3 linked regions of the Homo sapiens genome follow. The protein of the gene in region 1 interacts with the protein of each later gene in a biochemical or structural test. Each region holds a gene or a part of one and is shown in the gene's direction. Other genes may lie near its edges. The genes, in order: BLVRA, AKT2 and PRKCB.

Evidence for each region.
Region 2: the proteins of BLVRA (region 1) and AKT2 form a complex in vitro, tested with the Homo sapiens proteins (one study listed by BioGRID).
Region 3: the proteins of BLVRA (region 1) and PRKCB form a complex in vitro, tested with the Homo sapiens proteins (one study listed by BioGRID).

The regions. Positions count from the first base shown.
Region 1 is NC_000007.14:43,761,659-43,765,404, forward strand, and holds part of BLVRA (biliverdin reductase A), read left to right. Parts: intron 1-972; exon of another isoform or gene 973-1,116; intron 1,117-2,546; exon of another isoform or gene 2,547-2,647; intron 2,648-3,746. UniProt on the Homo sapiens protein: Reduces the gamma-methene bridge of the open tetrapyrrole, biliverdin IXalpha, to bilirubin with the concomitant oxidation of a NADH or NADPH cofactor. Does not reduce bilirubin IXbeta.
Region 2 is NC_000019.10:40,283,722-40,287,467, reverse strand, and holds the start of AKT2 (RAC-beta serine/threonine-protein kinase), read left to right. Parts: upstream 1-2,122; 5' UTR 2,123-2,287; intron 2,288-3,746. UniProt on the Homo sapiens protein: Serine/threonine kinase closely related to AKT1 and AKT3. All 3 enzymes, AKT1, AKT2 and AKT3, are collectively known as AKT kinase.
Region 3 is NC_000016.10:23,833,610-23,837,355, forward strand, and holds the start of PRKCB (protein kinase C beta type), read left to right. Parts: upstream 1-2,373; 5' UTR 2,374-2,566; coding exon 2,567-2,739; intron 2,740-3,746. UniProt on the Homo sapiens protein: Calcium-activated, phospholipid- and diacylglycerol (DAG)-dependent serine/threonine-protein kinase involved in various cellular processes such as regulation of the B-cell receptor (BCR) signalosome, oxidative stress-induced apoptosis, androgen receptor-dependent transcription regulation, insulin signaling and endothelial cells proliferation.

The DNA.
Region 1 (3,746 bases):
GACTTCATTATCAGAGCACCTTGATATGTTATTGCCCTGTGAAAGTCTGTTCAGTTTGGGGCTAGGAGGGATGCAGTCAGTGAAAGTGGCATAGTTTGTAATGTTTTTTAGAGTTTTGAATAATTATGTTAACTAATCTTTATAGAAAAGTTTAAAGTGTACAGAGAAGCAAAAAGAAAGTAGTCACTAAAAGTTTCACCACTTAGAGACATAATTACTGGTAATATTTTGATGTATATATTTCCAGACTTGTGTCCCATGTAGCTATTATATTTTTCTCAATAGATCCCAAAGTATCCAACTCCCTCCAGGGCAAGAGTTGCTTTTACCTTTACCCTTAGACCTCTGAGGCTGGCAGCTGGCCCCACCTGAGAGGGTCACCCTCTCCCTAATCCTTCCCCATACTTCTGTGAGTCACCTGGCTTTGGGGCAATAATAGATACTTGAGAGGGCGTTTGAGGAGGAACAAGGAGGAAGGTCACAGCTGTAGTTCATTCTGCATGATGTGTAATCCAGGCTTTTTCAACTCTGGCACTGTTGACATTTTGGGCTGGATAATTCTTTGTGTATGTGTAGTTGGGGTAGGAAGGTGTCCTGTGCATCACAGGATGTTTTGCAGCATCCCTGGCCTTTCCCTACTAGATGCCAATGGCACATACCCTTTTCCCCCCGAGTACAACAATCAGAAATGTTGGTGAGAAATACTGGGTTAATGAAAATCACTAATTTATTGCTGACAAAGCTCTGGAGTTTCAGATTCCAATTTGCATGTGGGAAAGAGACTGAAATCAAAAGGGAAACATAATGTAAGCCAAGGAAGCTGTTTAGTCCTGGCTGTGCTATTAATTTACTGTGAGATTTTGCATCTCTCCCACGTGCAAATTGGAATGTGAAACTCTAGAGCTTTGTCAGCAATAATTTAGTGATTTCCATGAACCCAGTAGTTCCTTTTTTTTTTTTTTTTTTTTTTTAAGATGGAGTCTTGCTCTGTCACCCAGGCTGGAGTGCAGTGGGACGGTCTCGGCTCATTGCAACCTCCGCCTCCCAGGTTCGAGCAATTCTCCTGCCTCAGCCTCCCGAGTAGCTGGGACTACAGGTGCACGCCACCATACCCAGGTAATTTTTGTATTTTTAGTAGACATGGGGTTTCACCATGTTGGCCAGGATGGTCTCGATCTCTTGACCTCATGATCAGCCCCATGCCCGCCTCGGCCTCCCAAAGTGCTGGGATTACAGGCATGAGCCACCGTGCCCGGCCCTTAACCCAGTAGTTGTTACTGACATTTCTGATTGTCGTGCTGGGGGGAAAACGGTATGTGCCACTGGCATCTAGTGGGGAAAGGCCAGGGATGCTGCAAACTGATATACTGCCAAGTTTATCAGTTGGGAATCCCAACAGTGAAAAGCATAAAAATGAAAGGAATTTTAAGGAGACTTTTTATAGAAGAGTGGGCAGGATTGGAGGAGCCAACAAGTGATGGTGAGGCACACAGGGAAGAGCTTCAGTGGGCACCATCCCCTCTCTGGTTTGAAGGGGTAGGGAGGGGACCAGAGCTGGGAGGAGGGGGCTGGAATACTGCTGGAGGAGCCACTCCCTTCCAGACCTGCTGTGGCCATCACAGAATGCAGCCACTGCCAGAGCAGCAGCCTGAGGAACCAGGCAGGGGGAGCACAAGTACCCTAGCCTCTCTCTTTCTGTTTCTTGCCTGCCGATCTCCTCCACTGGCTAAACCCAGCTGGATGCTAAGAGTACAGTCAGCCTGCCTGCTGAGGAGGGACCACCAGGGACCACCATCAGCAAGGGATCCAATGTCTTTCTGCCTCTGCAGAATGAAGGTTGGGGCACGGGGGGCGCTCTACTTCTTAGGGATATTGTGGGAATAAAAGGAAATAGGCAAAAAATGTTTTTGAAAAACAAAGCACATACTGCGCACCCGTGGGCCACTACTGCTTTTGACCCCTGGCTCTGTTTCATGAAGTAATGTCGTGTCATTCTCTTTTTAGGTGCTACAGGATTTCTTTAGGTTTGTTTTCTGTCCACCATATTTCAACTCATGTGTGCTGTTTGTTGTGCTAAAACAAATATTTGCTGATGCCTGAGTGAATAGTTGAATATTTTATATAAGTCAAATTTATACGTAATGATTTTTCTTGTAACTTAGCCGTTTCTCTTTTACAAACTCAGAAAACCTCAGACTTTGAAAAGGCCTTGAAGTTCCTCACCTGAAATCTGAGAACTTGGAGCGCCTTAAAAAATCTAAAGGAAAACAAAACAGTGAAAGAACATGATATAGTCAGTGTAGAGAATAAAATTATTTATGTAATTAATATTGAGGATGCAGATAACACGTTGTGAAATCTTGCTTGTAAAAAATCTCGATCTGCTGAAGAAAGATGTTCTCTCTAGAGATCTTTGAAAGCATAATTATTGAGCTTTTAAAATGTTAGAAACAAAAGTTAGACCCACACATATTCTGGCGTGTGGAAGATTTGCATTCCTTCCCCTGCCCGCCCCGCCCCCGCACTTGTGAGTTGTGCCTGTGTACGCAGTTCCTGTAGCACTCGGCTGGGCAGAAATCATCTTTCAGCACTAAGGGAACATAGTTATGATCTGGACCTTCTGGGAGTGGTCAGTGCCCAAGAACAGGTATGGGACTCCAGAAAGTTCTGCTCTCAACCCTATTTTGAAATAGAGTTACACATTGTTCTACAATTATTTGAGTTAATAAGCAGCTCTTTTCAAACGTGATTATGCCCTTCCAAGTTTAAATACACTAGACTTTAGTGAAAGTAATTGACCTCATCTCATTTCTCTCCTGTTATATTAAGATCACTTTCAGTAAAAGGTAGAAGCTTTTGAAGTGGTGAGGAGGAGGTAGAGGAGGGACATAGAGCAGATAGGGGCTGGAAAGTGGGGTGGGGAAGAGAGTGGCTTCTCTTTGGCAGAGTACCAAGGAAAAGCCCTATCTGTACAGAACCTTTGTGCCTGGGAACTTGATGGCTGCAACCTGAGCCTCAACCTAGTTTGCTTGCGGAGCCAGAAGAGAAGCTAAAAACCTTCAGTTAACCAAGCCAGACACCAAGAAAGTTAAACCGAAAGAGAACCCCCCACCCCCCGCAAAAAAAAGAAGTAAAGTGGGTTAAAGTGATATGTTAGCACAGAAAGAGAACATAAGGGTCATCTAAGTTCATCTGCCCCCTCTTCTATTTCAAGGTGCAGAAACTAAGGCACAAGGGACCCCGTGTCCTGCTCTTGATCACATAGCTAGTGGGTGCCAAGCCAGGTCTAGAACTCTGTTCTCTGGGGTCACAGGCTGGCTCTTCATCCCTCTAGAGAGATAGCTCATCTGTGTGCACCTGAGCCCGTTGTGTTTCGGAGTCAAAGCAAATAAAGGCTCAAACTCCAAGACTGTTTTGCAGACCGGCTGCAGTAGATACGGGGGGAGGAGAAACCTGCTTTAAATTGCTTCAAGCAAGTTGTTTCTGCAAAGGTGTTGACTTTTTTCTTTCAACTTTCTAGTGAGTCACTGCAGCCTGAGCTGTTATTTGTCATTATGCAATAATTCAGGAACTAACTCAAGATTCTTCTTTTTAAATTATTTGTTTATTTAGAGACAGAGTCTTGCTCTGTTGCCCAAGCTGGAGTGCAGTGGTGTGATCTCGGCTCACTGCAACCTCTGCCTCCTGGGTTCAAGCAATTCTCATGTCTCAGCCTCCCGAATAGCTGGTATTACAGGCTCGTGCCA
Region 2 (3,746 bases), on another chromosome or scaffold:
CGAGGTCAAGAGATGGAGACTATCCTGGCCAACATGGTGAAACCCCCTCTCTACTAAAAATACAAAAAAATTAGCTGGGCGTGTTGGCGCGTGCCTGTAATCCCAGCTACTCAGGAGGCCGAGGCAGGAGAATCGCTTGAACCTGGGAGGCAGAGGGCAGAGGTTGCAGTGAGCCAAGATCTCGCCACTGCACTCCAGCCTGGCGATGCAGTGAGTCTCAAAAAAAAAAAAAAAAAAAAAGAGAAAGCCACTGCCCTTGACTACCAGTGCTGCAAGGAGTTTATACACAAGCACATGGGTGGTTTCAGTGAGATCTCAGTGTGTCATAATTAAGTGCCCTAGGAGGGGCTAGGATTCAAGTTGGCCCAGGGGAGACTTAGACGTAGGGGAATGGCCTGTGAGCTGTTCAGTGTGGACAGGAGTGAAGAGGGTTGGTCACAGTAACCTTGAGTCTAGATTAGGGCAGAAGGGCTAATGCTTGAAACAAACATTCTGCAAGAGCCCACTCTGGGCAATGTTGGATACACACTGATCTCTGAGACAGTCTTGGTCTCTTCCTTTACTGTGTTTCCTGTGCAGTGGGGGAAACAGACCTGTCACCAGACAGTAATAGATGAAAATGGTTAGGGCTGTGAAGGGGGAGGCATTGGTCAGAGTTATTAACACCGACTGATGGGGAAGACCGGGAATTAGGAATACCAAGCAGCAAGTTCCAAGCTAGAAACCAAATAAGAAAGGGCTAGTTCCAGCATTAGGTTTACGTCTCAGAAAACGAAAGCCGAACCCTCAGCAGGATTTGCCTGAAACACTCTCACAGACTGAGGTGGACCCAGGATTCAACTCTCAGTCAGGCATTTTTCTCACTTACCAATGCATACAATTGCCAAGTTATATGGCATACTGGAACCCAAATTCAGGAGGCAGCACAATCCCCTATGAGAGAGGAGGGGCTGGGAGCCAGATGTCTCACAGCTGTCCAGTATACTAGCTAATATACGGATTAGGATCTGTGCAAAGCTCTTTTCTTGCAGGGTCATTTTTTTTCTTTTTTCTTTCTTTTCTTTTTTTTTTTTTTTTTTGAGACGGAGACTTGCACTGTCGCCCGGGCCGGAGTGCAATGGCATGATCTCGGCTCACTGAAACCTCTGCCTCCCGGGTTCACGCGATTCTCCTGCCTCAAGCCTCCCAAGTAGTTGGGATTACAGGCACACACCGACATGCCCGGCTTTTTTTTTTTTTTTTGTATTTTGAGTAGAGACGGGGTTTCACTATGTTGGCCAGGCTGTCTCGAACTCCTGACCTCATGATCCGTCTGCCTTGGCCTCCCCAAGTGCTAGGATTACAGGAGTGAGCCACCGCGCCCGGCCGCAGGGTGATTTTAAGGCCTTTATGGGCCCAAGTTGCATTATAAAATGTTATATCCCAGATTCACTGGAATATGTACGATGAGAGCAGGTGGCATTAATATCTTGCAGTAATGAACTAATTGGTAAAAACCGTTTTGTTTACATTAAAATGGTTCAAAAGCCAGCGACACAGCGATGATTGTTTCCATTTAGCAGATGTGGATACTGAGGCACAGAAAACGGTCAAGCCTTCTGCCCACAGTCACCAGAAAGGAGGAAATTCAAGTCTGGGGTTGTGTGGCTTCAGAGCCTGAGCTCAACCATGACGAGCACACTGAAAAGGAAACCCCTCCTAACTAACTCCCGCTCCGGGGTCCTTTAAGAGCGTCAGAACCCAGAACTGAGTAAAACAAGATCAAAGCGTATGTAAATACGGACTAGGGGCTGCCGGGAAATAATCACTACGGCTAGGCCCTAGGGAAAGCAGACGTCGGAGTCCTAGTGCGCCTGCGTAGCCCCATCTCGCCTTTCCGCCCCACGGCCTAGCGAGGCCCATCTCTAACCCACACAGGCCCAAAGTTGTCTAATGTGCGCAGGCGCCCTGCTGTGAGCCCGCCTCCTTCTCTGCCCTGCTCTTGCGCTCTCGCTCTCTCAGAGTTCGTCTCTGGCTCTTTGTACGTCACTTCCTGTTTGTGGCGCGAGAGGGCGGTATTTCCGTCCAGAGGGTGGGAGGGGGCGGTAAGCGGGGGCTGGGGGGAGGGGGCGGGGGGGGCCGCGCCGTGCTAGCCGTTGGGCCTGCCTCGGAGGAGGCGTCGCCGCCGCCGCTGCCGCTGCCGGCGCCGTTGCCGCTGCCGGGAAACACAAGGAAAGGGAACCAGCGCAGCGTGGCGATGGGCGGGGGTAGAGCCCCGCCGGAGAGGCTGGGCGGCTGCCGGTGACAGGTGAGTGCGCCAGCGCGTGTCCCCGAACGCCCCCCCCACGATGGTCGCGTCCGGGCCCCCCGCGGTGCCGCGATGGGCTGTACCACCCGTGCCCGGCGGGGGGACCGCGGCCCTCGAGCCCCTCCTTCAGGAGCTGAGTGGGGGTGGCCGAGCGGGGGCGGTGGGACCAGCCTCGGGGGGCCGGGGCGGTGGCGGCGGGCCATACCACTGAGGCGGTGGGGGGAGCGCTGCAAGTTTGCGGGACGGGGAGCGCAGGCCGCAGCGTGCGCGGGCCGGGGGCTGGACCTTTCGGGCGCGGCGGGCAGATCGAGCCTGGCGTGCGCGGGCTAAGCTATCGAGGGGGCGCGCCGCATCAAGTGTAGAGGGCTGTACCTTTTTGGCGCTGTGGAAGCCGTTGCTGTGCTGTATTTACAGGGGTGGGGGCTTCTGGGGAGGATGCTTCCCCAACTGTGGCTGGGTTATATCACCACGGCGTTGGGGGAGCCCTGCTTAGAACGTAGGGGAACCCAAATCAGAGGACTGTGATGTTTGTGATCTTTAAGGGACTGGGACGGGGCGGGACAGGCCCTAGTGGGTTTTAGGGGCGTATTTTGGGAGGACTGTGATGCCGATTGGTGAGGAGGGGTTTCTGTTTCCTGTATTTGACGTGTGTGGCGTTGGGGGTTTACACTGATCTCAGCCTTTATTGAACTTCTTAACGACTCTGGAGGGAACGTCATGGTTACTGGGGTGCTTTGGACCATGGAGGTGCTGCTCTGGATTCCATTACCCTCTCAGATTATTTACCAGGCAGTAACAGTTCTTTCCTTCCATAGGGGAGGGAGGAAAGCTGTGTTAGAAGTCACTGAAGTTGTCTGAGCCTTAACATTCTGAAGAGGAAGAGGGATTGGGCTTGGATTTGAGGAGCCGTGCCCCTGCACCCGCTTGTTAAAACTTGGGAGGAAGGAGTGTTTGGGGGAACACCTCTTCCCCCCAGGGAAGCTCTCTGGGGGCATCTTGATCTTGGGATTGTGAGGACCTCTTCCTCTCATTTGGAGACCTCTTGGGGCTCAGCAAGACGCCTGGGCTGGAGTAACTAGAGCCTCCAATGGGCTGCTTTTCAACTTCATCCACTCCTACCTTCCCAGAGAAGCAGCAGGAGTTCACTCGTGGGCTGAACTTGGTTGGCAGTGGATGTGAAGGGTCCAGGAACCAACGCAGACCACTACATGCTCCTCTGTCGCTGGCCACGAAGCTGTTTGTGTCTCCCAGTTACCAGCTCGGTCACACATCATGTTTACACTCCCCACCAAGGCAGTAACAGTTGGCCTTGCAGTGAGGCCGGGAGCTGTTTTCCCAGCTGTTCCTCTTTGCATAGGCCAAGGGGACTTGGAGTGGGGGTGCCCCTGGCCCAGCCTGGCCCAGGGAGGAAGGCTGCTCTGAAGGGCTTGGGACAGTCAGATCCCCCATGGATCTGGTG
Region 3 (3,746 bases), on another chromosome or scaffold:
GTTAGTTGGTTAGGTTATTACTCCCCCTTCCCCATTAGACTATAAGCTCCACTAGGGCAGGGACCTTTGTCTGGTTTGTTTAACAGTATCTGGAACAGCACACAGTAGGTGCTTAATAAGCAATTTGTTGATTGAAAGAACAAATGTATGAGTGAGGGAGGAATGTAGGCTCCATTTAGCTCTATCTTTTTTCCTAGATAAGTCAGAATCTGGATATTTAAGTAAAATTCTATGACCCGTGAACTTAAAAAACAACAACAACAACAACAACCCACTGGGCTAGCTTAAAAAAAATAGAGCATCTGGAGCCACCAGTTTGAGACCCTGACCTACAGGAATCTGGGTCCAATGGGAACCACATTTCTCATCCTCACTTGGTGCAACGCCTTCAGGAACCAAGTGGCTCTTTTCCATCCACAGCCCTTGCATCCCCAGGCCCCGGCGCCATGAGGTACTGTTTGTTGTTACAGACCAAAGTCATCCAGGGCACTTCATTCAAAAGGCAGGATGTGGGCTGTGAGCTTCCAGCTCATCAGTTCAAAGGAAATCTACTTCAGCAGCAATGTCTCCTGGGATGTTTTCCCAAGCCTCCCTGGGAGGTGGTGGGGCCTCTTCAAGGACTAATAATAGACAGGCACATCCAGTTTCCCAAACATGTCAACCTTAAAAGTGAATGCTATTTTTTCCTCCTTACCTTTGAATTACTATGTAGGAGAGGGACATTCTATTATTGCAGCCCTTGCTCTCGACATGCTACCTAATAATGACTTACCACTCAGCAGCTTCCAGGCAAAATTGTCATAGTGGGACCTGAGCTCGTGCAACTCCAGCCTGCCCCCCTTCATCCACCACTACTCAGGTTCACCCCTTTGTCACCAGGATGCTTTGTAGTCAGGCCAGCCCAATCACCATTCAGCAACGGTATGACTGTGGGTGTATCTTAATCACTCTGAACCTCCCCATCCTTATCCATAATGAAAGTTACCAGATCTACATAGGGTTGTTGCGGGGGCTAAATAAGACAGCACAAGTACCTGATGCCCAGCAATCACTTGATATTTATTATTAAACACCTACTGGGTGTGAGTGGGGGTAAGAAGTGCCGACCTTTAAGTCTTCATTCATTCACTTGTTCATCCATGCCCTCACTCAATCAACCAATATTTACTGGGGTCTTGGGAGGTGTCAGGCACTGAGCTTGGTGCTGGGCGACATGGTGGTGAACAGCCCCCCTGCTCTCACAGAGCCTAGGTCTGGTGAAGGAGCTCACAGCCTAATGAAGCTCTGCGTTCCCAGAGTGGGGGACATGGTGGCAGTGGGTATCTTTAGGCCTTGTGCATGAACAGGGCGCTAAATAACATTGAATTACACATTGTAGACAATTATTACCCTTTCAGTTACCTTCAGATCACATCAAGGAGAGAGTCCTGGTTGGATAGTAATGTCTTTAACACCCCTCTAGCATTTATTAATTTCCTCTCTTAACAAATAAAAGATGACTTCAGTCGAAGATGCTTAGGACAGATGACGGCACCTGGAGATATTTTAATAATGTAGATACCTCTTGCTGTTCAAACTCAGACCAAAAGAGATAGGCTTTTTTTCCCCCAGAGGGTGCACAAATACGACCAGAATTTGTGAAGACGAGTCAGAAATGAATGAAATTTGGAAAAATATTGATCTACTGAAATCCTTCCTCCCCACACTATTAGCCCTATGTTACAGTTGGGGAAACGGAGTCGTTTTGCAGAGGGGATGGACAGAAGGTAGGGAGTTCTCTTCCAAACGTGCAGGAGGCAAGCAAAGCCAAGAATCTTCTCTGTGGTGGAGTTAGAGACATATAAAATAAAGATCGCTCCTCCCCTACCTCTGCAGAACGTGTGTGTGTATGTGTGTGTAAGTGTGTGCGGCCACAAGCCTTTCCGAATGAGTGACAGCGGGAGCCCATCCCTCCAGGAGACGCGTGCAGAATGACCAATGGGATGGATGGGGGTGGATGGGTACCAGTCTCCGCAGAGGCCGGGGTGGAATTCGCTGCGCCCCACCCCTTCCACCCGCTCCCCTTCGCCCCGTAGGTCTTTCCACTCTCGCTCCTCCCCTGGGCACATCTCCTGAACGCAGCCCCGGGGGCCGAGGACGGGGTGGGGTGGGGGGCGAGGCTCGGGTCCGACGACCCCGGGCTGCGGTCCCGGCGCTGCAGAGCTGCGGCTGTGCACGCTTAGCCGCGAGGCCCGCGGTAGCCCGGGCGCCGATATGTAAAGCAGCTGGCAGCGCTGGGCGGGGCCTGGGCGCGATGCAAATGAGGAGGGCGGGGCTGGCCCGGGGCTCCGCCTCCCTCCCCCGCAGCTGGGGCCAGCGGTGCCAAGCGCAGCTGGACGAGCGGCAGCAGCTGGGCGAGTGACAGCCCCGGCTCCGCGCGCCGCGGCCGCCAGAGCCGGCGCAGGGGAAGCGCCCGCGGCCCCGGGTGCAGCAGCGGCCGCCGCCTCCCGCGCCTCCCCGGCCCGCAGCCCGCGGTCCCGCGGCCCCGGGGCCGGCACCTCTCGGGCTCCGGCTCCCCGCGCGCAAGATGGCTGACCCGGCTGCGGGGCCGCCGCCGAGCGAGGGCGAGGAGAGCACCGTGCGCTTCGCCCGCAAAGGCGCCCTCCGGCAGAAGAACGTGCATGAGGTCAAGAACCACAAATTCACCGCCCGCTTCTTCAAGCAGCCCACCTTCTGCAGCCACTGCACCGACTTCATCTGGTGAGCGCGCGCGCGCAGGGCACCTTCCCGGGCCCCCGAGGGCAGCGCCGCGCCAGGGACCCCCTCTCCGCGCCCTCTGCGCCCTCCGCGCCCTCCGCACCCTGGGACCCCGCGTCTCCGGACTCCCGGCTCCGGACCCTGCTGCCCGGGACTCCCGGATGGACAGTCCTGCCGTTGCCCTGTCCCCACCCTGGTCCCAGACGGGCCGCCGCGGGGCGCCTCCTGCCCTCTCCTGCTCTCAGGCGCCTCTAGAGCGCCCAGGGGCGGCGTCGCGGGAGCCTTTGCTCCACCTGACTAGGAGCGCGCGGGGTCTGTGCCTGCCCTGGAGGGCAGCGCCTCGGGTGCTCTCCGACCCGGGGTTCCCTATCTCTCCGCCTGCTTCCGGGCGCGAGGAGCCCTCGCCCCCCACCCCTTGTTTCCGGGGGGGGCGGCGCCCTGGGTGTCCTTCTCTATCTCCCTGCGGGCATGGGACATCCTTTCTCACTCCTCTGTGCCTCCGGGCAGCGCCCTGTGTTATCTCCCATTGCCCCTCCCCGAGGGCCTGGGTTCCCCTTTCCACTCCTCGGTCACATCACTGCGGGCCCCTTTCTTCCCCAGTCCCTCCAGTAGTGGGGCATCCTTTCCTCCTTCCCAGTCCCCCTCCCAGAGGACACCACCGCCGCGGGGTCACTCTCGCCCTCCCTCTGAATGCGTCTTTATCTCTTCTCTTTTCCCGAGGGTGCTCGGGGCATCTATGGGTACATCTGTCGCCTGCCTTCAGCCCCTACCCCGACGGAAACGCTCCCCACTATCCCGCCACCTGGTGGTCGCAGCCTCCTCTCTTCTGCAGGAGTGAAGGCAGATGGGGGTTACAGCCGAGCTCCCACCTACCCCCACAAAGGCGGAAGACTCTTGGGCACCCGCCTGTGGCTGGGAGTTTGCACCTGGGGTACAGAGGCAGGGAGGAAGGCGGGTGACTCTGTGGGTAACTAGCTGGAGGCTGGGCCCCCCGGGCTGCCTGACATACA